3 separate regions of the Homo sapiens genome follow, and regions 2 and 3 are each linked to region 1. Evidence: fine-mapped expression QTL. A gene starts in region 1. Each other region holds a variant in brackets. All regions are shown on one strand. Distances are between the middles of the regions. Region 1 holds the start of OLFM2 (olfactomedin 2). Region 2 overlaps OLFM2 (olfactomedin 2). Region 3 holds the start of LOC124904636 (a long non-coding RNA gene).

Region 1 (7,977 bases):
AGCTAGCTGAACCCTGATAAACTGCCGCTCTAGTGGGGAAACAGAGAATGAATGAATAGAAGAATCATAGAAATGTGGAAACGAGGGCTATAAAGAAAAATATGGCCGGGCGTGGTGGCTCATGCCTATAATCCCAGCACTTTGGGCGGCAGATCACCTGAGGTCAGGAGTTCAAGACCAGCCTGGCCAACATGGTGAAACCCTGTCTCTACTAAAAATACAACAAAAACTAGCTGGGCATCAGGTGGCACGTGCCTGTAGTCCCAGCTACTCGGGAGGCTGAGGCACGAGAATCACTTGAACCGGTGAGGCAAAGCTTGCAGTGAGCCGAGATTGCGCCACTGCACTCCAGCCCAGGCAACAGAGTGAGACTCAGTCTCAAAAAAAAAAAAAAAAAGAAAGAAAGAGAGAGAAAGAAAAAGAACACGGAGTAAGCACTCAGAGAGTGGCAGCAGGGGGCTATTTCACTTAGCTGTTCAGGGTGAGCCTCTTGGAGGAGGTGACATTTAAGCAGAAATCAGAGATAAATAGCTACCAGGGGGAACAGTGTCACAGGCAGAGGGAACAGCAAGTGTGAAGTCCCTGAGGCACGTGATCTAAACTGAATTATTCCTTCTCCCCATCCTCTGAAAGCCCCAGGAAAGAGTTGGTCCCAAACCCAGATAGTGCCAACGATGTAGCTAGATCTTAGGGAGGCCTTCGCAGGGATCAGGAAGGCATCTTTTCCACAAGGAAAATAGTGGGGCTCAGAACTGTCAAGCTCTCTGGTAGTCACTCCCAGGCCAGAACCCAGAACATCTTGGATAGATCCTGGATGAATGGACAATGCCTCTGACAGGCCCTGCTTTCCTGTTCTCCTGCTCTCTGGGTCAAATCCAAACTTCTGCCCACAGCTTACAAGTTCCTAAGTGGTCTGGCTTCCCCGGCCTCATCTCCCCGCGACCTCTCCAGCCACACCAGCGTCCACACTGCTTCTGAAACTCACCAAGCTTGTTCTTACCCCAGGGCCTTTGCACCTTCTGTTCCTCCCACCTTCAATGCTCTTCCCCCAGACACCCACAAGGCTCCCTCTCTCACCTCCTTCAGATGTCACCTGAAACACTACTTCCTTAGAGACACCTTCCCTGACCACACTGGCTCAAATAGCCCCCACCTTGTAATCTTTTTCTGTTTTTTTGCTTTGAGACAGTCTTGTTCTGTTGCCTAGGCTGGAGTGCAGTGGCATGACCTTGGCTCACTGGAACCTCTGCCTCCCAGGTTCAAGCAATTCGCCTGCCTCAGCCTCCTGAATAGCTGGGACTACAGGTGTGCAACACCACACCTGGCTAATTTTTTGCATTTTTAGTAGAGACGGGGTTTCACCATGTTGGCCGGGCTGGTCTCAAACTCCTGACCTCAAGTGATCCACTCACCCTGGCCTCCCAAAGTGCTGGGATTACAGGCGTGAGCCTCCATGCCCGACTGCTATCACTCTAATCTTTTTTTTTTTTTTTTTTTTTTGAGACAGAGTTTCACTCTTGTTGTCCAGGCTGGAGTGCAATGGCGATCGCAGCTCACCGCAACCTCTGCCTCCCAGGTTCAAGCAATTCTCCTGCCTCAGCCTCCCTAGTAGCTGGGATTACAGGCGCCTGCCACCACACCCAGCTAATTTTTTGTATTTTTAGTAGAGACAGGGTTTCACTATGTTGGCCAGGCTGGTCTCGAACTCCTGACCTCAGGCGATCCACTTGCCTCAACTTCCCAAAATGCTGGGATTACAGGCGTGAGCCACAGCACCCGGCTCCAGTCTAATCTTCTATACTTTATCTGTTATTCTTCATGCTACTTGCATTGTATTATATGTATATTTAGTTGCCGACACCGTATTACATGGTTATTCGGCTCTTTTCTGTCTCCTCTGCTAGGTCAACTCCAGGAGAGCAGGGATTTGATGACTCAGTTGGTGGCTGTATCCCCAGTGCATAATCATATCTGTTCATTGAATGGATTAACCAATGATTTCTAGGAAGGACCCCTGGGCCCATCAGGGACAGGGAAGAAGTCTTTGGAAAGTGATGGAGGGAGCGAAGAGTGGGTAGAGCATCCTCTCTGCAGACCCCTCCCTTCCCTGGGGTGCCAGGCTTGGTGGGCCAACGCCAAGGGGGTGTATGGGGCGCCGAGACTGTTTCACAACCATGTAGTTCCCGCGGTGGCCGCCTGGAGGCACTGCAGCCCGCGGCAGGATTCCACCAGCCCCGCCCTAACGGATTACCTCATTTGGCCACGCCCCCGTTGTCCTTTAGCCCCGCCTCCACTGACCTCGTTAGTCCCGCCCCCAAAGCAACTCCCTCCCAGCCCTGGGGGCTGTAGGAGTCACCCTCCAATTGCAATTCTGGCAGCAAACTCTGGCATCCTAGCCAATCTTGGTGAGAAGCCAGAAAATCTAGTGCCCCCCTAGCAGGGAGTGGAGGAGAAGCCACAGGGGGTGGTTCTCTGTCTCCTCTGCTAGGTCAAGGATAATTCAACTTGATTCCTGGCTCATTTTTTTTCCACTGGTTTCTCAAGTGTGTGCCTCTTTTGGTCTCTCGTCTCCCAGGTGTGTCTCTTGGCTTCTCTCAGGCTCACACATCCATTGAGTACCTATTGTGTGTGTCCTCATGCCTGGGGCTGGGCACACTCCCTATCCCACCCAGCGCGTGGGTGCTGAGATGCGTGGGGAAATGGAGGAGCGAGGGAGGGGACCCCACAATCTCTCCTCGTGGCCTGGAAATCCTTCTATCTGGAGTCTAACCTCCATTCCTCCCAACACCCCCCTCGGGGTGAGCACAAGGGTCTGATTCTTTTCTTGATAAGGGGAAGGTGCCCAAATTGTTTCTCCCCTGCCTATCTACCTAAAAGCCCACCTAGCAATGTCTTCACGGACGCTGTCCACACCCATGGAGCGGATTATTTAACAAGAGGGTAATCGTGTGGGCTCAGGAGCCGGACTGCCTCGGTTCAGTCCCACCTCTGTCACTCTCGAGCTTGAGCAAGTGATTTAACTTTTCTGCGCCTCAGTTTCCCCATCCATAAAATGAGGTAACAATACCATGCTCTAGTAGGGAGGAGGCAGAGGGGGTTAAATGCCTTAGTCTGTGCTGTGTGATTGAAACAGCACCTCTCAAATTAGCACGTAATGAATGATCACTGTTATCATAATGACTATTTTATTATTTTTGATCCCAGCTTCCCTGTGAACTCCTACAGATCTGAGAACTTGGGGGTGCTCTCACTCCCAAGATGGAGGAGGAGAGGGGCTTTCCAATAGCAAAAGAGAGCGTGGACGCCCCACATTTTGCAAGCCTCCCTGAGCCTGCCCAAGAGAAAGGTGCCATGGGGAGGGAGACCCGCTTCTGTAAGGGTATGAATGGCGTGTGCGGTTGTGAGCAAGGCACCAAGATACACACACACACGTGCATGGATGGACACGTTTGCACACACAGCGCTTGCACACACACACACCCTTTTAGAGTGATTTACCCAAAGGTACAGAATAGCACACGCTCACTCCAAGGCTCTCACACGGCCACACACCTGGCCACACACGTATTGTACAACACCCAGTCATCTGGAGCCAGTAATGAGGACACGGTCACACACAGACTCTGTCTCACGTACTGATCACACCCCAACTCGGGCACTAGTTGGACAAGCCCCCCAACCGCCACACACACAAACTCCCCCCGGTCACACCCAACCACGACACAAAGACACACACGTTTACCCTGCACCCCCACAGCATTTCACACGCGTCCCCGTCAGTCACTCTCACGTGAGTCCCGTCCCCTGCCCCACACTGGGGGCTGCAGGCGAGGAGTGGAGGGCTTCAGAAACTGGGCATCTCGGCCCCGAAGAGGAAGTCAAGGGTAAGCAACCGCCCCCCTCCAATGCCCCCTGAAGTTTCCCTCCCAACCCCATTCAGCTCCAGCGAGATGGCGGGGTGGGGGCTCGGGGCCATGGAGGGGTTGAGAACCCCAAAGACGCCACCCCCCAAACCAGCCCAGCTTGAGGCTGGATTTGAAGCCCCCCTCGTCCTCTCCCAAGCCAGAGAGTGCACGTCCCGGCCCCTCCCCCGCTGCGACCCCCGCCCCTCGCCGCCCTGCAGCTGGGGGGGCTTGTGGAGCCTCCCAACCCCGTTTCTCCGGGAACCCTCCGCGCCCCCCTCCTCTCCCGGAGCCACCCGCGCCCGCACCTGCCCGCCGGGCCCCTACCTGTCCGGCCAGGCCTGAGCACAGCAGCAGCAGCAGCGGCGGCGGGACCGTGAGCGGCCACATGACGCGCCCCTAGCCCGGCGTCCCGACCCCCGCCCGCCCTAGCGGCGCCTCGGCGCGGGGACCGCCACCAGGCGCGACCCCGCCCGCCCGGCCGGGGCGACCCTGCGCCGCCGCCTCCCCCGCCTCGCCGGCGGCCGGGATTCCGCCCCACCCCCGCCCCCTCGCTCGCTCCGAGTCTTTGTTGCGGGCTCCGCCCCCCGCCCCGCCCCCAGCTCCTCTTCGGGAGCAGCTCGAGCAGGGTCGGGTGGGGGGGTGGGGGCGGGGAAGTGGGGGAGCCAGCGCCGGCGAGGGGACCTGAGGACAGGACTTGGCAGCGCCCCCCAACCCCCAGGCCATTCCGGGAGCGGGTCGCGGAGGTGGGGGAGGGGTGCCCGTCACGTGTTTGTAAATTTCACCCTCCGGGGGCATTTCCCACGTTGCAGGTGGGACGGGGACGAATGGTTGGGGGAGAGGAATAGGAGGAAGGCCTGGTAGCAGAGAGGGGAAATGATGAACGCCCCCTCCCTAAAAACTCAAGAGTCAACAGGGAAACTGAGGCAGAATCTGAAATTGGAAGTTGGAGGAGGGGTCAATGCCAGGACAAGAGGGGTGAGGCATAGATGGAGACGGGGAATAAGAGGAAAAAATTGAGGTTGGGGGGACAGGAGACCGAGAATCAGGCAAGAGGCCAATGGAAATGGCCACGTGGGTGGGCTTGGCCTCAAAAAGGGGCGTCTCGTTTTCACTCTCCCCGGGCGCCCCATTTCCCCACCAGTCCTCCCGCTGGAAGCCTCCCCGCCTCCGCCACACCTGGAAGAGTTTCTCTTCGCTCCCTGTTTCAATAGCCCAAGATGAAAGACCACATCCCCCGAGAGAATCAAAATATTAACACCGCCTCCACGCGAAGCCATTTGCATATGAAGGGCGTCCTTGTCTAGCCTCACTTTCGGGAGGCTTTCCAGCCTTTCTCTGCCTCTCACTCCTCCAAAAGTCTCCCTAGGCCGGGCGCGGTGGCTCACGCCTGTAATTCCAGCAATTTGGGAGGCTGAGGAGGGTGGATCATCTGAGGTCAGGAGTTCAAGACCAGCCTGGCCAACATGGCAAAACCCCACCTCTACTAAAACATACAAAAATTAGCCGGGCGTGGTGGTGCATGCCTGGAATCCCAGCTACTCGGGAGGCTGAGACAGGAGAATCGCTTGAACCCGGGAGGCAGAGGTTGCAGTGAGCAGAGATCGTGCCATTGCACTCCAGCCTGGGCAACAGGAGCAAACCTTGTCTCAAAAAAAAAAAAAAAAAAAAAGTGTCCCTAGTCGTCTTTCCTCCCCACAGCCCCTCTAGGGATTCGGATATATGTAGGCAGAGGTGGAGGAGGGGGGCGGGCAAATAAGTCAGATTGGAAAGAAATCGGGCATAAAATATGCGAGGCCAGGAAGCCTGGCATTTTTGTGACCCTGATACTGTTGGGCTAGGAGGGGTCTCCCCAGACGCTGGTGGGGCCTCGACCCCAGCTGGTGTCCAGGCTCTTAACACCATCGCAAGAATGAATTCAAGGAGGAATCAGAAAATCATGAAAAGTTCGGAGATTTTTTTGTTAAGGGAAAAGTCCACACTTGAGAAAAGGGAGTGGGCGTACTTAAGAGAGAGAGATGGGCAAGGTGGTTTGGGACTGCTACCTTTATGTGTCTCTTTTTTTTTTTTTTTTTTTTTTTTTTTGAGACAAAGTCTCGCTCTGTCACCCAGGCTGGAGTGCAGTGGTGTGATCTCGGCTCACTGCAACCTCTGCCTCCCAGGTTCAAGCAATTCTCCTGCCTCAGCCTCCTGAGTAGCTGGGATTACAGGTGTGCGCCATCACAGCCGGCTAATTTTTTGTGTTTTTAGTAGAGACAGGGTTTCACCATATTGGCCAGCCTGGTCTCAAACTCCTGACCTCGTGATCCACCCGCCTTGGCCTCCCAAAGTGCTGAGATTACAGGCGTGAGCCACCACAACAGGCCACTGTGTATCTCTTTAACCAAGGGATGGAATATTCATGAAAACTGGAAAAAGGTGGACTGTGGTGCCACCCACTTTTACACCAAATTTGGGTGTCCCTGGAATTGTCAAGGGCGCTGGTGGGTGGGTAATTTTAGTATTTTAATGAGTACATAATGAGATCCTAGGTGAAACCTAGGTAGAATGTAACGCCATGTTGGGTCCAGTAGGTCTTAGCCAGCTTGGTCCACACCCTGGTTTTCAGGATCTTATCAGCCCATAGCCTCTAGTCATGTGAAACGGCTGCCTGTGACCACCCTGGATCATTCCTGTCTCAACCCTACTGGGGATAAAACATGTCGATGATGGTTTTGTCAGGTCAATGAGAAAGAGCTTGGTGACCCACAGATCTGGGTTCAACCCTGGTGCTGCCACTTCTTGGCCATGTGACCTTAGGGAAAAAGCTTTCCCCCTCTTAGAAGACCTGTTTTTTGCAGTTATTGGGAGACATCTGTGACTCTAAGCAAAGAGAGCACCTAGCTAGCACTCACTCCCCAGCACGCCTTGCAATAACCAACCATGCACTGGGTTGAGGACACTCATCATGGGATGTGGACACAAAATAGAGTCTGAGCCTGCGAAGACATCCTGTTTATTCTTCTATCTCTTTTTTTTTTTTTTTTTTTTGAGATGGAGTCTCACACTGTCACACCCAGGCTGGAGTGCAGTGGCTTGATCTCGGCTTACAACCTCTGCCTTCCGGGTTCAAGGAATTCTCCCGCCTCGGCCTTCCAAGTAGCTGGGATTGCAGGTGCCTGCCACCAGGCCTGTCTAATTTTTCATATTTTTAGTAGAGATGGGGTTTCACCATATTGGCCAGGCTGGTCATGAACTCTTGACCTCAGGTGATCCACCTGCCTCAGCCTCCCAAAGTGCTGGGATTACAGGCATGAGCCACCGCACCCATCCTATTCTTCTATCTCCTTTTCCCAAATGGGAGACAGTCCTTTGTGGGCCCTTCAGGCCAAGCCTGCAGTTGGCATTGCATAAAAGGAGGACATTGGTTGGTAGGACCCACAAGCTCTTGACCAAGAGTGGGTCTCACGGTCAAGAGTCAGCACTCTTGACTCATGAATGCTGCATTTCAGGACCATGAACAGTGTCCTCCTTGGGCTCTGGTCACTAAGACGATCACAGTTACAACTAAGCTACAGCCTGTGTTATATGGTTGGAATTTGGTCGATATGCACTTAGATCTATTCCCCACTTTCCCCCTGCTCCCCTCTGTATCAGGGCAATGGCTCCTGCAAATTATCTTTCTCAGGTTCTCTACACACTACATTTCCCAGGCTTCTTTGCATCTGGTTAGGCTCAGCCAATGGGAGGTCTACAGGCAGATTGGAGGGTGCCAAGAAAGGAGAAGCCAGAGAATTTCCCCCCCTCCACTTTGAGTGTCTCTAGCCATGGCTGCTGTGCCTCCTCTGTGGTCTCAGTCCCATTAGGTATTCCCCACCATGGTGGGGGGTGGGGGCAGGTGACTGGCCAGGTAACTGCAGCTCCTGGATTCAGGTAACTACCACCTCCCTTTGTTGTTTCAGTCCTTGCAAAGATGATAGCTAGCAACTAGAGTTGATTCACCTGCTCCAGTTTGCGCTTAAAACCAACCTAATAGGGCCAGGTGCGGTGGCTCATACCTGTAATCCCAGCACTTTGGGAGGCTGAAGTGGGTGGA
Region 2 (7,977 bases), 73 kb before region 1:
TAAGGTAGACTCCAGCTGGCTAAGGTGAACACCTGGCTAAGGTAGACTCCCACCTTGTTAAGGTAGACTCTCACTTGGCTAAGATGAACACCTGGCTAAGGTAGACCCTCACCTGGCTAAGGTAGACCCTCACCTGGCTAAGGTAGACCTTTACCTGGCTAAGGTAGACTCTCACCTGGCTAAGGTAGATTCCCACCAGCTTCACCTGACTAAAGTGGACTCTGCCTGGCTAAGGTAAACTCAGTCAGAGTTACCACTGGATGCTTGTTGAAATACAGACTTTCCTGTACAATTATTCACATGACACTTGGAAACTCCCAGAAACTCAGCAGCCTAATACCCACCCTGAACGCCACAAAACATTTTTACATACTCTTCCCTTCTCCACAGTTTCACGTTTCAGCTACCTGAGGCCAACCACAGTCCAAAAATATTAAGTGGGAAATTCCAGAAATCAACAATTTGTAAGTTTTATTTATTTATTTATTTATTTATTTGAGATGGAGTCTTGCTCTGTCTTGCCCAGGCTGGAGTGCAGTGGTGCCATCTCAGCTCACTGCAACCTCCACCTCCCGGGTTCAAGCAGTTCTCCTGCCTCAGCCTCCCGAGTAGGTGGGACTACAGGCACACACCACCACGCCCGGCTAATTTTTGTATTTTTGGTAGAGGCTGATCTCAAACTCCTGACCTCAAGTGATACACATGCCTCAGCCTCCCAAAGTGCTGGGATTACAGGCGTGAGCTACCACGCCCGGCCCAGGGGACTATTTTCTCTTGACCATGATCAGAGGTAGAAGGAAACTTTTATAGGAGCCTCTTGAGGTGGAGGGTTAGACCCTCCCCAAGGGGCACAGAACTCCTTCTTAGTAGGTGAGTCTGGTGAACTGCAAAGCTGGGTGGGACATGCCTGGTGGACCAGAGCTCACACACAGGAGACTCAGATGCTGCCCCTCCAGTCTTCCTTCCTTCCCCCCACCCCAATCCCAGTAAGTGCTTGGCTTCTCTCCCAAAAAAGCATTGAACAGGCAGGGCGCAGTGGCTCACGCCTGTAATCCCCGCACTTTGGGAGGCCAAGACAGGCAAATCACCTGCAGTCAGGAGTTCAAGACCAGCATGACTAATATGGTGAAACCCCATCTCTGCTAAAAATAAAAAAATTAGCTGGGCGTGGTGGCACACGCCTGTAATCCCAGCTACTCGGGAGGCTGAGGCAGGAGAATTGCTTGAACCTGGGAGGTGGAGGTTGCGGTGAGCTGAGATCGCGCCACTGCACCTGCACTCCAGCCTGGGCGACAGAGTGAGACTGTCTCAAGGAGAAAAAAAAAAAAAATACATTGAACAGATATTGGATAAAGTATCCATCTGGGCATGGTGGCTCACACCTGTAATCCCAACACTTTGGGAGGCTGAGGCAGGAGGATCACTTGAGCCCAGGAGATTGAGACCAGCCTGGGCAACATAGGGAGACCCCGTCTCCACAAAAAATATAAAAATTAGGGCATGGTGGTGCATGTCTGTAGTCCCAGCTACTCAGAGGCTGAGGAGTGGGGATTGCTTGAACCTAGGAGTTTGAGGCTGCAGTGAGCTGATCATGTCACTGCATTCCAGCCTGGGTAACAGAGTGAGACCCTGTGTTAAAAGGAAAAAAAAAAAAAAAGGACCTGCCTGGAGAGGAGCTGGATTATCAGCCAGCTCTGAATAATTTGCATAGCTGGATATGGCCACTGGCTGACCTGGATGGGGCTGGAGGGCGGGGTGAGAACTGGGAGATTTTCCCAGCTGCCCCCAGGGTACCTGGAAGGTTCTCACCTTCTCCATCAGTTGCCGCAGCTCCCGACTCCTGCCATCTCGAGAGCAGGTACTCTGCGCTGGGATCACGGCCGTGCAGATGCATTTCCCGTCAGGGGCCTGGGCTGAGGTGTACAGCTGCCAGCCCTCTTCTGGGTTCTGGAAGAGAGTCTGCAAAGAGGTGGGGGTCAGAGACCGGAATCCCAGTGAGGGTCTCGCCTCGCCCTCACTGGGACAGGAAGGGGGCCCAAGGAAACCACAGATGCCCTTTGCTGGGCTCCGGGCATATGCCAGTGCCTGTTGTGTGTGATCTCAGGCCCTCCTTAAGGAGCCTCATTTCACGGATGGCAAGACTGAGGTGCGGAGGGCTTAAGGAACACGGCAAGGAATTGGAGGACTCAAATCTTCTCCAAGACCAGAATTCATTCTCTCACACAGATTTGCACGCACACAACACTGTCTCTGTGACTGCCATTAGAACAGAGATCCACTCAAATAACCCCCAAACCTGGACCTCCTCTCTGCTTCCCCAGCCCACAGTGACATATCGGCTCTGGAGCTATCTCAGGGCCACTTAATGTTTTTTTTTTTTTTTGGTTTGTTTTTTGTTGTTGTTTGTTTTTGAGACACAGTCTTGCCCTGTCACCCAGGCTGGAGAGCAGTGGCGCGATCTGGGCTCACTGCAACCTCCGCCTGTCTCCAACACCTGGCCTCCACTCCAGCCTGGGTAACAGAGTGAGACCCTGTCTCACAAAAAAAAAAGGATCTCACCTCAGGTGATCCACCCGTCTCAGCCTCCCAAAGTGCTGGCATTACAGGCGTGAGCCACCGTGCCCGGCCATCAGGGCCACCAAATGTTAAGTGCAACCCTGCTGTGCCCCCACCTCACCTGGAGCCACCCAGGCAAAGTGATGGCAGACAAAATGCTCAGATAATCCAGTGACCAATTATGGCTTTGTTTCCCAAGCCATACTCCTTCCAACACTGGTAATCTTACCAGGTGTGCTGGGAAAAGGATGCTCTGTGGTCAAATAAATGTGTGTCACTGGGTGAAACAAGTTTTGTTACTGCAGGACTTATCAGAGGCTTAGAAATGCAAATAAGTACCAGGGAACTCTAGACACAAATCATAAACTTCCAAACTGATTAGAAGACACCCCTGAGGCAGGTGGATCACCTGAGGTCAGGAGTTTTGAGAACAGCCTGGCCAACATGGCAAAGCCCCATCTCTACTAAAAATACAAAAATTAGCCAAGTATGGTGGCGGGCACCTGTAATCTCAGCTACATGGGAGGCTGAGGCAGGAGAATGGCTTGAACTTGGGAGGCGGAGGTTGCAGTGAGCTGAGACTGCGCCACTGCGCTCCAGCCTGGGCGACAGAGCAAGACTCCGTCTCAAAGAAAAAAAAAAAAAAAAAAAAAGAAGATATCCATGAGAGTCTCTTCTGTCCCAGGCATAGGGTCTGGGATAGGATCAAGGAAGAGAAGGAATGAAGAAAACATCTGGTGGTTGTCCATGGAGCTACTAGGAGAGACGGACATCAACCACTTAATGCCAGTGATACTTCTAGAACCACATGCTGCAGTGAGTGCTTTGAAGAAGTAGTGCAGGGAGTAACAGGGGGTCTTCCCTCAGGCTGAGGGTCTCTGAGGAGGTATCCAAGAGAATGGGCTCTTGAGATGAACTTGAGGGACGAGTGAGACAGAAGAAAAGGAGAAGGCAGGGGACATTTCTATCATTACAAATCCTGATCAATGTCTGGAGGGACCCAGGAATGGTGGCTCACGCCTGTAATCCCAGAATTTCAAGAGGCTGAAGGGGGCGGATCACTGAAGGTCAGGAGTTTAAGGCCACCCTGGGCAACATAACAAGACCTCATCTATACTAAAAATTAAAAAAAAAAAAAAATTAGCTGGATGTAGTGGCATGCACCTGTGGTCCCAGCTACTCACAAGGCTGAGGCAGGAGGATTGCTTGGGTACAGGAAGTTGAGGCTGCAATGAGCTATGGCTGTGCCACTGCACTCCAGCCTGGGTGACAGAGTGAGACCCCATCTCTTAAAAAAAACAGGCCAGACGCGGTGGCTCACACCTGTAATCCTAGCACTTTGGGAAGTGGAGGCAGGTGGATCACCTGAGGTCAGGAGTTCCAGACCAGCTTAGCCAACATGGTAAAACCCCGTCTCTACTAAAAATACAAAAATTAGCCGGGCATGGTGATGTGCGCCTATAATCCCAGCTACTTGGGAGCCTGAGGCAGGAGAATCGCTTGAACCTGGCGGGGTGGGGGCAGCGAGCCGAGGTTGCAGTGAGCCGAGATCACACCACTTTACTCCAGCCTGGGCAAAAGAGTGAAACTCTGTCTCAAAAAAAAAAAAAAGGATGTGGGGGGACGTGAGGGTTGTGGGGTGACTGGCTTGGGCTTGCACACGTAGGCGTCGTTTGTTCAAAACCTGAAGTCTTTGTTCAAGACCTGAAGGAAGTGAGGGA[G/A]GAGCCATTTGGATGTCTGGGGAAGGGGTTCCAGGCAGAGAGAACAGCAAGTAGAAAGGCTGAGGCAGGACCATGCCTGGTGTGTTTGTGAAACAAGGAGGAGGCCCATGTGGCTGGAGCAGATTGAGTAAGGGGTAAGTGGAGGCAGATGAGAGAAGGGAGGTGATGGGGCAAGGCCTTGTGGGAAGCAGTGAGGGCTCTGGGTTCTGCCCTGAGGAAGGTGGGAGCCATGGAGGGTTCTGTGCAGAGGCGAGACGTGACCTTACTTGGGTGTTCACAGTGACCTCTGGCTGCTCTAGGGAACGAGGGAGGGAGGCCAGGGCAGGGGTGACTGCACAGATCCAGACAGGTGATGATGGGTGGTGGCCATAGAGGCGGTAAATGGAAGATTCTGGTCCTATTCCAGGATGCATTCTGACAGGCATGGAAGAAATTCTGATTAAAAAAACCCCAGTGTTTTACAGAGAAACAAAGCACCACAATCATTGATCATTTGCACAGCCATTACTAGATCTCCCAGCAGAATCGGTGCCGTGAGCTGCAGCACAGATAAACCAAGCTGTGAATTATGAGCGATCCCGGGGACTCCAACTATTAGCCCACCTTTTTCTCTCCCACTCAATCGAGTCTTTTTTTTTTTAAGGCTTATTGGAATATGAGCAAATGATATAATTGTACAAATTATACAGATGAGCTTGACTCCCCCACTAATCTATAAGGAAAACAAACCATTCATAAACGCCAGCTGAAACTATTACAGTCAGTCATTCTTCGAGCCTTTGTACACCCTTCCTAAATGGGGGGAACCCCCTCTTTGTAAGTTGCACATCCTCAGCCCTGGCAGCGGAGCACAGTAACTCACTTTCTCCGCCTTCCTTGTACTCAGGTAGGAGCTGGGTGGAGCTAACATTCACTGCAGGTGTGCCCAGGATTGGCCACAGCCAAGAGCTTTCTCTGGTGGTCATATCCCACCCTGCCCTTGCATGGGGCCAGCAGAAAATACACCCAGCAATCCTCAGAGATGACCTACAGGCATTCGTGATTAATACCACCCCTCTTGCCTCTCCAGTGGGAAAGAACTCGAAGGTGTATGTTCATGAAATCTTCCAGGGCAACCCATTAGATTTACACCTCAGTTGTCCACAGCAGCAACCTGCTCATTACTTCTCTTTTATTTATTCGTTTATTTTATTATTTTTCATTTTTGAGACAGACTCTCGCTGTGTCTCCCAGGCTGGAGGGCAGTGGTGCGATCTTGGCTCACTGCAACCTCCACCTCCTGGGTTCAAGCGATTTTCATGCCTCAGCCTCCCGAGTAGCTAGGATTACAATCACCCACCTCCATGCCTGGCTAATTTTTGTATTTTTAGTAGAGATAGGGTTTCACTATGTTGGTCAGGCTGGTCTCGAACTCCTGGCCTCAAGTGATCCGTCCACCTTGGCCTCCCGAAGTGCTGGGATTGCAGGCGAGAGCCATTGCGCCTGGCACATTTATTTATTTTTTTAAGATGGGGTCTTGCTGTCGCTCAGGTCTGGGTCTTGCTGTCACCCACCACTGGAGTGCAGTGGTGCAATCCTAGCTTACTGCAGCCTCGAACTCCTGGGTTTAAGCCATCCCCTCCCACATCTGCCTCCTGAGTAGCTGGGCCTACAGGCAGGTACCAACACACCCAGCTTTTTTTTTTTTTTTTTTTTCCTTTTGTAGAGATAGTCTTGCTTTGCTGCCCAGGCTGGTCTTGAACTCCTGGGCTCAAGCGATCCACCTGCCTCGGCCTCTCAAAGTGCTGGTATTACAGGTGTGAGCCACTGCGCCTGGCGTACTCATTAAGTCTCCCGGCACGGGTTTCCTTCACCTCCTCTCTCACTTCACTGCTCCCCCACTGGTTCTTCCTGGGGTATCTTAGGTGGATACCTGCACTTAAATCCTCCCTGAAAGAGCCTGACCTAAGACAACAAGGATGGCCCAGTACAAGAGGAATACCCCAAGAAAGCCTGCCCCTTTGGTTCTGGGAGGATCCAGAACTACTCTCCCACCTCCCTTCTTCTTCTTCTCCTCTTTTTTTTTTTTTGGAGATGGAGTCTCACTTGGTCACCCAGGCTGGTGTGCAGTGGTACTATCAGGGCTTTTGGCAGCCTCAACCTCCTGGGCTTAAATAGTGATTCCTCCCACTTCAGCCTCCCGAGTAGCTGAGACTAAAGGCCTTTAGTCTCACCATCGCACCTACTAATTTTTAAATTTTTTTGTAGAGATGGGAGTCTTGCTATATTGTCCAGTATGGTCTCAAACTCCTGGGCTCAAGCGATCCTCCTGCCTCAGCCTCCCAAAGCACTGGGATTACAAGGCATGAGTCACTGTTACCTCTCTGTTTTTTCTTTTTTTTTTTTTTTTTTTTTTTTGAGAGGGAGTCTTGCTCTGTCGCCCAGGCTGGAGTGCAATGGCGGGATCTCGGCTCACTGCAGCCTCTGCCTCCCAGGTTCAAGCAATTCTCCTGCCTCAGCCTCCCAAGTAGCTGGGATTACAGGCATGCACCACCACGCCTGGCTAATTTTTGTATTTTTAGTAGAGACAGGGTTTCGCCATGTTGGCCAGGCTGGTCTTGAACTCCTGACCTCAAATGATCCACCCGCCTTGGCCTCCCAAAATGCTGGGATTACAGGCATGAGCCACCGTGCCCGGCCCTCCCTTCTTGATAAATCTCATTCTTAAAAAAAAAAAAAAAAAACAAAGAAAAACATCAAACAGGAGCCCAAGCATCCCTGCCCCTCCTCCCCTGGCTCTAGTCCCCAAGCAATTTGGATAGAAACCCCCAAGGAATATCTTTTGTGCAGAGACAAAGCCGCCGGTTCAACGTAATTAACATCTTCCTACATTGCCTAGCGTGTCCGTTGAAGCAAATAAGCCATTTTCTCTCGACAGAGGAAATATTGAATTGTAAAAGAGAAGCAAGATTTAAGTGGTGCAGAGAGAAGGCCTCCATGGTTTTCCTAAAATAATTGTCTGCGTTGGACGCATCTCACCGGAGTGTTCTCTGCAGCAGTGTAATTAAATGCCTGGGTTTTGGCTGCCAGATCGCAGCAGGCAGAGGTCCTGAGTTTTGCCCATTGGGTTTAAGTTCAGATATGCAGTTAATGCATGTCCCTAGGAACCGCTGGAATGTTCTGGAATGTACCATGTGCTAGCTCTCCCAGACTGGGTCTAGCTTGGAAACAAAGTCAAGAGTTCTTGGCAGTCAGAAGACTAGAGAGGAACAGAGAGTGTCCTACTCTAGGGGAAATGCTTACAACAGCAGGTGCAAGAACACAGGCGTTCTCCAGCATAGAAGTCTGTGGTCTAGCAGCCTGTCTCACCTCGGATGTGGCAGATGTACTAAAGAAGCCAACCCACTTTTTTTTTTTTTTTTTTTTGAGACAGGGTCTTGCTCTGTTGCCTAGGCTGGAGTGCAGTGGCATGATCTAGGCTCACTGCAGCCTCAACTTCCCTGACTCAAGCAATCCTCCCACCTCAGCCTCCCGAGCAGCTGGGACTACAGGCATGCACCATCACGACTGGCTATTTTTTTTGGTAGAGACGGGGATCTCACTACATTTCCTAGGCCGATCTTGAACTCCTGGGCTAAAGTGATCCACCCGCCTTGGCCTCCCAAAGTGCTGGAATTATAGGCGTGAGCTATCACGACGGCCCTGCCAACCCACTCTCTCT
Region 3 (7,977 bases), 43 kb before region 1:
CAACAGGCACCTGGTATCCATTTGTTATTTTTAAAATTCTGCCGGGCACGGTGGCTCACGCCTGTAATCCCAGCACTTTGGGAGGCCGAGGCGGGCGGATCACAAGGTCAGGAGATCGAGACCATCCTGGCTAACACGGTGAAACCCCGTCTCTACTAAAAATGTAAAAAATTAGCCGGGCATGGTGGCGGGTGCCTGTAGTCCCAGCTACTTGGGAGGCTGAGGCAGGAGAATGGCTTGAAGCCGGGAGGCAGAGGTTGCAGTGAGCCAAGATTGCGCCACTGCACTCTAGCCTGGGTGACAGAGCGAGACTCCGTCTCAAAAAAAAAAAAACAATTCTGCACAACAACCATATGAGGTAGGAACTCTCGGTGTGCCCCTTATGTGGGTGAGGAAACTGAGGCCTGGAGAGGGGAGGGGGTGTGCTTGGGTCATGGGTTAGGGAGTGAGCTGTGGCCATGTGTCTCTCCATGGTGTGTATGTGTGCAACTGTGTGTTTTTTGTATTTTGTTTTTTGTTTTTGAGATAGGCTCTTGCTCTGTTGCCCAGGCTGGAGTGCAGTGGCGCGATCACAGCACACACAGTGTCAATCTCCCAGGCTCAAGCAATCCTCCCACCTCAGCCTCCCAAGTAGCTGGGACTACAGGTGCATGCCACCATGCCTAGTAAATGTTTGTCTTCTTTTGTAGAGATAGGGTCTCACTATGTTGCCCAGGCTGGTCTCAAACTCCTGGGCTCAAGCAATCCTCCTGCCTCAGCCTCTCAAAGTATTGGGATTACAGACATAAGCCACCACACCCAGCCCAACTGTGTGTTTTGTGCAGATGCAGTGTGAGTGGCTGCATCAGCCCGAATGTGGACAGAGGAGGATGCATTCAGGCTCACTTTGCATCGGGGTGTCTGTGAGTGGAAGGGAGGCAGTGGGCCAGACCCAGGCAGGTGTGAACACGTGTCTGTGTGTTCGGCTGGGTATGAATGCGTGTGTGTGCGCCAATGCACTGGCGGATGGGAAATTGTGCATCCACAGTGAAGCTGTGTGTATGTGTGTGAAGGGGAGGCTCTGTGAGCTTTGGATGGGGCTGGAGCTGCAGTTGAAGCAATGTTGTGGGTGAGGGAAGAACCCCACCAGCCACAGGCCTGTTATTTATAGACGAATCCTGGTTCATAAATTCCAATTTTTTTTTTTTTATATCTGCCTCACTGCCAGGCCCCTATAAATATTCATGAGTTTCCTGCCTTGGAATATTTGAGTAGTCAGAAGGAGGAGCCGGGAGGAGAGGGGACAACGAAGGGTCCCCAGTGGCGCTGGGAGCTCACACGGGTCGGGAGGACAGGGGTCTCTCTGGTTTTGCCTTCTCTTCCCTCTGGGCTCCCCTCTTCCAAGCTGCAGCTGGCAAGACGGGGAAGGCGCTGGGCTGGTGGAGACATCTACCAGCACCTATTATTCTTCTTCCCCAGTGTCTGTGGAAAAATACCACCCACTCCGGGGGCAGAGAAGGTGTCTGCACTGTTTTCTCAGCTCCAGCTCTAGCTGCAGCTCAGAAACTCATTACCCCTGGGACCCCCAGCTCAACAGAGACAGGGAGATCCCCCTGATGTATCTGAAGCTAAGGGAAGACTCTGGGGGGAGGGGGCGGGCACTGTGGCCTCCTGCCCTGCCTCAAGGAAGGAAACAGGTCATGAGAATGGGTGCCCGTGAGAAGGAATAAAGTGCGTGCATGTGGACGTGTCTACAGGAGTGAGTAACTGTTGGAACATGTAAGAGACTGCAGTAGTCAACAGAACTGTTGACACATTTTCTAGTTCTTTTCTCTTAGGCACATGATGGGGCTGTAGGACTTCCCCAGTGTGGCCACGTGACTTCCTTTAGCCAATGCCTTTTAAACGGCAGTGACTTCCAGGTGAATACTTTAAGAGCCGGTGTGGACCAGGTGTGGTGGCTCACACCTGTAATCCCAGCACTTTGGGAGGCCAAGGCAGGAGAACTGCTTGAGGCCAGGAGTTTGAGAACAGCCTGGGCAACATAGCAAGACCCCTATTCTACAAAATATTTTAAAAATTTATCGGGCATGGAGGTGCACACTTATATTCCCAGCTACTCAGGAGGCTGAGGCAGGAGGATTGTTTAAGCCCAGGAGTTGGAGGCTGCAGTGAGCTGTGATCACACCACTGCACTCCAGCCTGGGCACAGAGCAAAACCCTGTCTCTGAAACAACGAAGAAAAAAAGAGGCAAGCCAGTGTGCAGTGCCACAGTCTTCCCTCAGCAACCGCAGAAGGGCATGTTGGGCTGGGTGCAGTGGCTCACACTTGTAATCCCAGCACTTTGGTAGGCTGAGGCACGCAGATCACCTGAGGTCAGGAGTTCAAGACCAGCCTGGTCAACATGGTGAAACCCAGTCTCTACTAAAAATACAAAAATTAGCCAGGCCTGGTGGTGGGTGCCTGTAATCCCAGCTACTTAGGAGGCTGAGGCAGGAGAATCACTTGAACCTGGAGGCAGAGGTTGCAGTGAGCCGAGATCGTGCCACTGCACTACAGCCTGGGCAACAGAGCGAGACTCCATCTCGGAAAAAAAAAAAAAAAAAGTGCATGCTGGGGCCAGGCACAGTGGCTCACATCTGTAATCCCAGCACTTTGGGAGGCCGAGGTAGGTGAATCACTTGAGGTCAGGAGTTCGAGACCAGCCTGGCCAACATGGTGAAATCCTGTCTCTACTAAAAATATAAAAATTAGCCAGGTGTGCTGGCACGTGCCTGTAGTCCCAGCTACTTGGGAGGCTGAGGCAGGAGAATTGCTTGAACCGGGAGGCAGAGGTGAGCTGAGATGGCACCACTGCACTCCAGCCTGGCAACAGAGCAAGACTCCATCTCAAAAAAAAAAAAAAAAGTGCATGTTGGTATGAAGCCTCCATCACTGGGGTCCCTGAGTGGCCAGACTAGGCAGAGACCCTGCCAACCCTCATGTATCATGAGCAAAAGCTCATTTGGTTGTACTAACCCTCTGAGACTTGGGGGCTGTTTTGTTATACAGCAAAACCTAGCCTATGCTGACTGGCACAGAGCCAGTGAGTGTGTGAGACTGAGGTGTGGCACGTCTGTGTCTACATGATCAAGAACACACATGAGCAGGTAGCTATATATAGGTTTATGTGTGTGAGCATCAGCAAGTGTATAAAACTATGCATATGAATGTATAAAACAGGATGGTGTCAGATGATAGATAAGTGAGAAAACTCCAGGGACACTGTTCTCCGAGAACACCATGACCCTGGAGTCGGGCACTATTGCAGATGTGAAACTGGCATAGTGAGGAGGGCTATGTCTGAGTGTGCCAGTTGGCTGTGTTTGTAAGACTGTGATGTGGTCTGTACGTGTGTGTGCCAGGGTTTGGGGTGTCAATGTGCATGTCTGTGCCACGTGTTGCTGTGTATCTGAGGCACGTGCATGGGTTGGTGTGACTGTGTGTGTGCATGTGTGTATCTGCTGCTGTGTGGATATGTGATACCCTGGGTGTGACAGCCTATATGGAGTGGGGGCATCACTCAAGTCTGTATCAGAGTACATACAGCCAACACCACAGGGAGGGACA[G/T]CCACCCTGGGCATCCCTAGTGCTGTTGGCTCATGGGCCTGACCTGGCTCAACCTTGGATCCTAGGATGACCTGGCATTGGGAAATAAAATTCTGGCTGTGTGCGGTGCCTCACGCCTGTAATCCCAGCACTTTGGGAGGCCAAGGTGGGTGGATCACTTGAGGCCAGGAGTTCGAGACCAGCCTGGCCAACATGGCAAAACCCTGTCTCTACTAAAAATACGAAAATTAGCTAGGCTTGGTGGCGGGTGCCTGTAGTTCCAGCTACTCAGGAGGCTGAGGTGGGAGAATCACTTGAGCCCAGGAGGCAGATGACGCCACTGCACTCCAGCCTGGGTGACAGAGCAAGACTCTGTGTCAAATCAAATCAAATAAAAATAAAATTCTCATCCCCTCATGAGTCCTGGGACATTCCAAGTCATCTGCAATGGCCATTCATCCCAGAGGCACTCGACAGTTTGGGTGACGCGGCTCAACAAGTAGGGAGAGCAAACCTGTTCTCCCACAACTTCTCTAAGATAAGCCCATTTTCTGGTTCTCTCCTCACAAGGTTCTGGTCTGATCTGTCTCAGGATGTGGGTTCAGCCCTGGTCCATCTCAGGATTCAAGTTAAACTCTGGTCTATCTCAGTACTTGGGTTTGGCCTTGTCTATCTCAAGTCCACAGCGTAGCCCTGATCTACCCAGGACTCGGATTTGGTCCTGGCCCTCTTCATCTCTTAGAACCAGGTTTCTCTTTGGTCTCTCCCAGTTAAGCCTTTGTCTGTCCAAGGCTTGGGCTTGACTCTAGTCTGTCATAGAGTCAAACCACAAGGCATCTTTTATTTTTTTTCTTTTTCTTTTTTTTTTTGAGACAGAGTCTCGCTCTGTTGCCCAGGCTGGAGTGCAATGGCACAATTTCAGCTCACTGCAGCCTCCACCTCCCAGGTTCAAGTGATTCTCCCGCCTCAGCCTCCCAAGTAGCTGGGATTACAGGCGCCTACCACCATGCCCAGCTAATTTTTGTATTTTTAGTAGAGACTGGGTTTCACCATGTTAGCCAGGGTGGTCTCGAACTCCCAACCTCAGGTGATCCACCCGCCTCCACCTCCCAAAGTGCTGGGATTACAGGCGTGAGCCACCGCACCCGGCCAATCATGGAGCATCTTAACACCTTGGGGATGTATCTGTGTTCTGTTCCAGGACTTGAGTGAACCCCCCGTCTTGGAACCTGAGCTGAGCCTGGTCTATCTCAGTACCTGGGTACACCCTGCCCTAGTAGAACGTTCACAATCAGGTGAGGATTTCATGGCAGAAATTTCCCCTTCCTGGGCACCTTCTCACGTGTGGAGCACTTCTCTTAAAGTGTTTGGGGCCTCTTGGGTGAACGTCTACTGCAAATGATTGCTGTGTCTCAGGATTAATGAGGGTAAGGGGATTTCATTTCTCCAACGCCATCATGTAAAATTCATTAAAGCAGAGTTCGCAGGTCTATTTCAAGGATTATTACCAGGGTTTCTTGATGAGCTATTACACACAGCATAAATCTTCAAGAGGTTTCAAGACGTTACAAGAACCATCCTGAGTCTCACCTCATAGATACTAGAGTTGAACATCCCTCTATCTGAGCTCTCCCCAGCCTCAGACACCAAACCTCAGGTCAGGAGTTCAGGAGAGAGCATTCAAGAGGGTTTTCTTGGTCGGGCATGGTGGCTCACTCCTGTAATCCCAGCAACTTTGGGAGGCCAAGGCGGATGGATCACTTGAGGCCAGGAGTTCGAGACCAGCCTGGCCAACATGGTGAAACCCCATATCTACTAAAAATACAAAAATTAGCCGGCCGTGGTGGCGCACGCCTGTAATCCCAGCTACTCAGGAGGCTGAGGCAGGAGAACCACTTGAACCCGGGAAGGGGAGGTTGCAGTGAGCAGAGATCATGGTAACATGTGCTAAACAGGAAGGGTCAAAACCTGCTGTCACCTGAGCCCAGGTAAGTCACGGCTGCAGTGAAACCGGGATGGTGTCACTGCACTCCAGCCTGGGCAACAGAGTGAGACTCTCTCTCAATAATAATAATAATAATAATAATAATAATAATAATAAATAAATAAAATAAAGCCAGGTGCAGTGGCTCACGCCTGTAATCCCAGCACTTTGGGAGGCTGAGGCGGGCAGATCACCTGAAGTCAGGAGTTCGAGACCACCCTGACCAACACGGAGAAACCCCGTCTCTACTAAAAATACAAAATTAGCCAGGTGTGGTGGTGCCTGCTTGTAATCCCAGCTACTCGGGAGGCTGAGCCACGAGAATGGCTTGAACCCAGGAGGCAGAGGTTGCAGTGAGCCGAGATTGCACCATTGCACTCCAGCCTGGGCAACAAGAGCAAAACTCCGTCTCAAAAGAATAAAAAATTAAAAAAATACATAAATAAAATAACTTCCCACTCCTCGGTTGAGAACCACAGCTCTAGACTTAGCCTTGCATTTTCTCTTTATCTTTCTCTAAGGAGTCTGACCCTTACCAAAGCGTCCATCAACACCTGCCTGTATATATGTCCTCAGAGCTCCAATGCATATATTCATCATCTGACTCCTTGACCGCTCCCCCTGCCCCAGATATCTCTAAGGCATCTCAAGCCCAACATGCTCAAACTGAAGTGCACAGCCTTCCCTCCCTAACCTAGTTCTTATCCAACATTCCTTATGTCACCATCTCCATCCTCCCCACCCCCGGGCCAGTGGGTCAGACACCCGGGCATTATCCTCACCCTCATTTTACTCCCTCACCAAATCCTACTGATGTTAACTCCTAGATAGCTTTAGAATTCATGCATCATTCTTCATCTCTATCACCATGCAATGGTCCAAGCCACTTTCACAATTCAGCAAGTCTAGGCTGTGTGCAGTGGCTTATGCCTGTTATCCCAGCACTTTGGGAGGCCGAGGTGGGAGGACTGCTTGATCCTAGGAGTTTGAGACCAGCCTGGGCAACATACTAGGACCCTAACTGTACCAAAAAAAAAATTTTTTTTTAATTAGCGGGGTGTGGTGGCACACGCCTGTAGTCCCAGCTACTCGGGAAGCTGAGGTGGGGGATCACTTGAGCCTGAGAAGTCAAGGCTTCAGTGAGCCGTGATCACACCACTACACTCCAGCCTGGGTGACAGAGTGAGACCCTGTCTCAAATAAATAAATAAATAAATAAATGTAAAATATGACAAAACATTTAAATAAAAATAAAGTCTATTCGGTCTACCTCAATCTACCTTTTTTCTTGCTAGTAACTCTACACATGGGAGCTTCTGGGAAACTTTATTTATTTTTATTATTTATTTATATTTTTAGACCGAGTCTCGCTCTGTCGTCCAGGCTGGAGTGCAGTGGTGCCATCTCAGCTCACTGCAACCTCCACCTCCAGGGTTCAAGTGATTCTCCTGCCCCAGCCTACTGAGTAGCTGGGATTACAGGCCCACGCCACCACACCTGGCTAATTTTTGTATTTTTAGTAGAGACAGGGTTTCACCATGTTGGCCAGGCTGGTCTCAAACTCCTGACCTCAAGTGATTCACCCGCCTTGGCCTCTGAAAGCTGGGAAACTTTACAACGCACGTGTGATCATATTATCCTCCCGGCCAAAACCATATTGGTGGATTCCTTTTATTCTTAGGATAGAGATAAAACTCCTTAATGTCGCCACAAGAGCCTGTGGCTCTGCACTTTACTTACTTCTCTGCTTTCATCTGGTCTCCTCGTTCCCAGGCCTTCTTTACTTTATTTTAATTTTTTTTTTTTTTTTTTTTTTTGAGACGGAGTCTTGCTCTGTTGCCCAGGCTGGATGGAGTGCAGTGGCGCGATCTTGGCTCACTGCAAGCTCCGCGTCCCGGGTTCATGCCATTCTCCTGCCTCAGCCTCCCGAGTAGCTGGGACTACAGGCGCCCGCCACCACGCCCGACTAATTTTTGTATTTTTAGTAGAGACAGGGTTTCACTGTGTTAGCCAGGATGGTCTCAATCTCCTCACCTTGTGATCCGCCCGCCTCAGCCTCCCAAAGTGCTGGGATTACAGGCGTGAGCCACAGCGCCCAGCCTATTTTAATTTTTTTTAGAGACAGAGTCTTGCTCTGTTACCCAGGCTGGAGTGCAGTGGCACAAGTGTAGCTTACTGCAGCCTGGAACTCCTGGCTCAAGCCATCCTCCCACCCCGGCCTCCGAAAGTGCTGGGATTATAGGTGTGAGCCACCACCTCACCTGGCCTTGCAAGGCCTTCTTTAGTCCATCATATTTTCCATCCTTCCTCTTACCCCAGGGCCTTTGCATAAGCAATTCCCTCTGCGCAGAGCATCCTTTCCTCTCTGCATCAGATCTCAGCTCTTGCTTCCTCTGACTTCCAAATTACATCAAATCTCCTTATT

Evidence for each region. PIP is the estimated chance that this variant, and not a neighbour inherited with it, causes the effect.
Region 2: its variant is the best candidate, but not a certain one, in a credible set for the expression of OLFM2 in whole blood (TOPMed, PIP 0.71).
Region 3: its variant is the best candidate, but not a certain one, in a credible set for the expression of OLFM2 in unexposed skin (GTEx, PIP 0.51).

Annotation. Positions count from the first base shown.
Region 1 is chr19:9,932,075-9,940,051 of GRCh38, forward strand. It overlaps OLFM2 (olfactomedin 2), which reads right to left and starts at 4,441. Exons shown (of 6, transcript NM_058164.4): 1 at 4,230-4,441. The coding sequence starts at 4,292. RefSeq lists enhancers at 3,697-4,291, 4,958-5,460.
Region 2 is chr19:9,858,836-9,866,812 of GRCh38, forward strand. It overlaps OLFM2 (olfactomedin 2), which reads right to left. Exons shown (of 6, transcript NM_058164.4): 2 at 1,810-1,959. Among named protein-coding and RNA genes, the nearest start is that of PIN1, 28 kb to the left of the region's middle. The variant G/A (reference allele first, on the strand shown) is at 4,278.
Region 3 is chr19:9,888,746-9,896,722 of GRCh38, forward strand. The region is part of intron 1 of OLFM2 (olfactomedin 2); the gene reads right to left. It overlaps LOC124904636 (a long non-coding RNA gene), which reads left to right and starts at 4,745. Exons shown (of 2, transcript XR_007067135.1): 1 at 4,745-4,863. The variant G/T (reference allele first, on the strand shown) is at 3,590.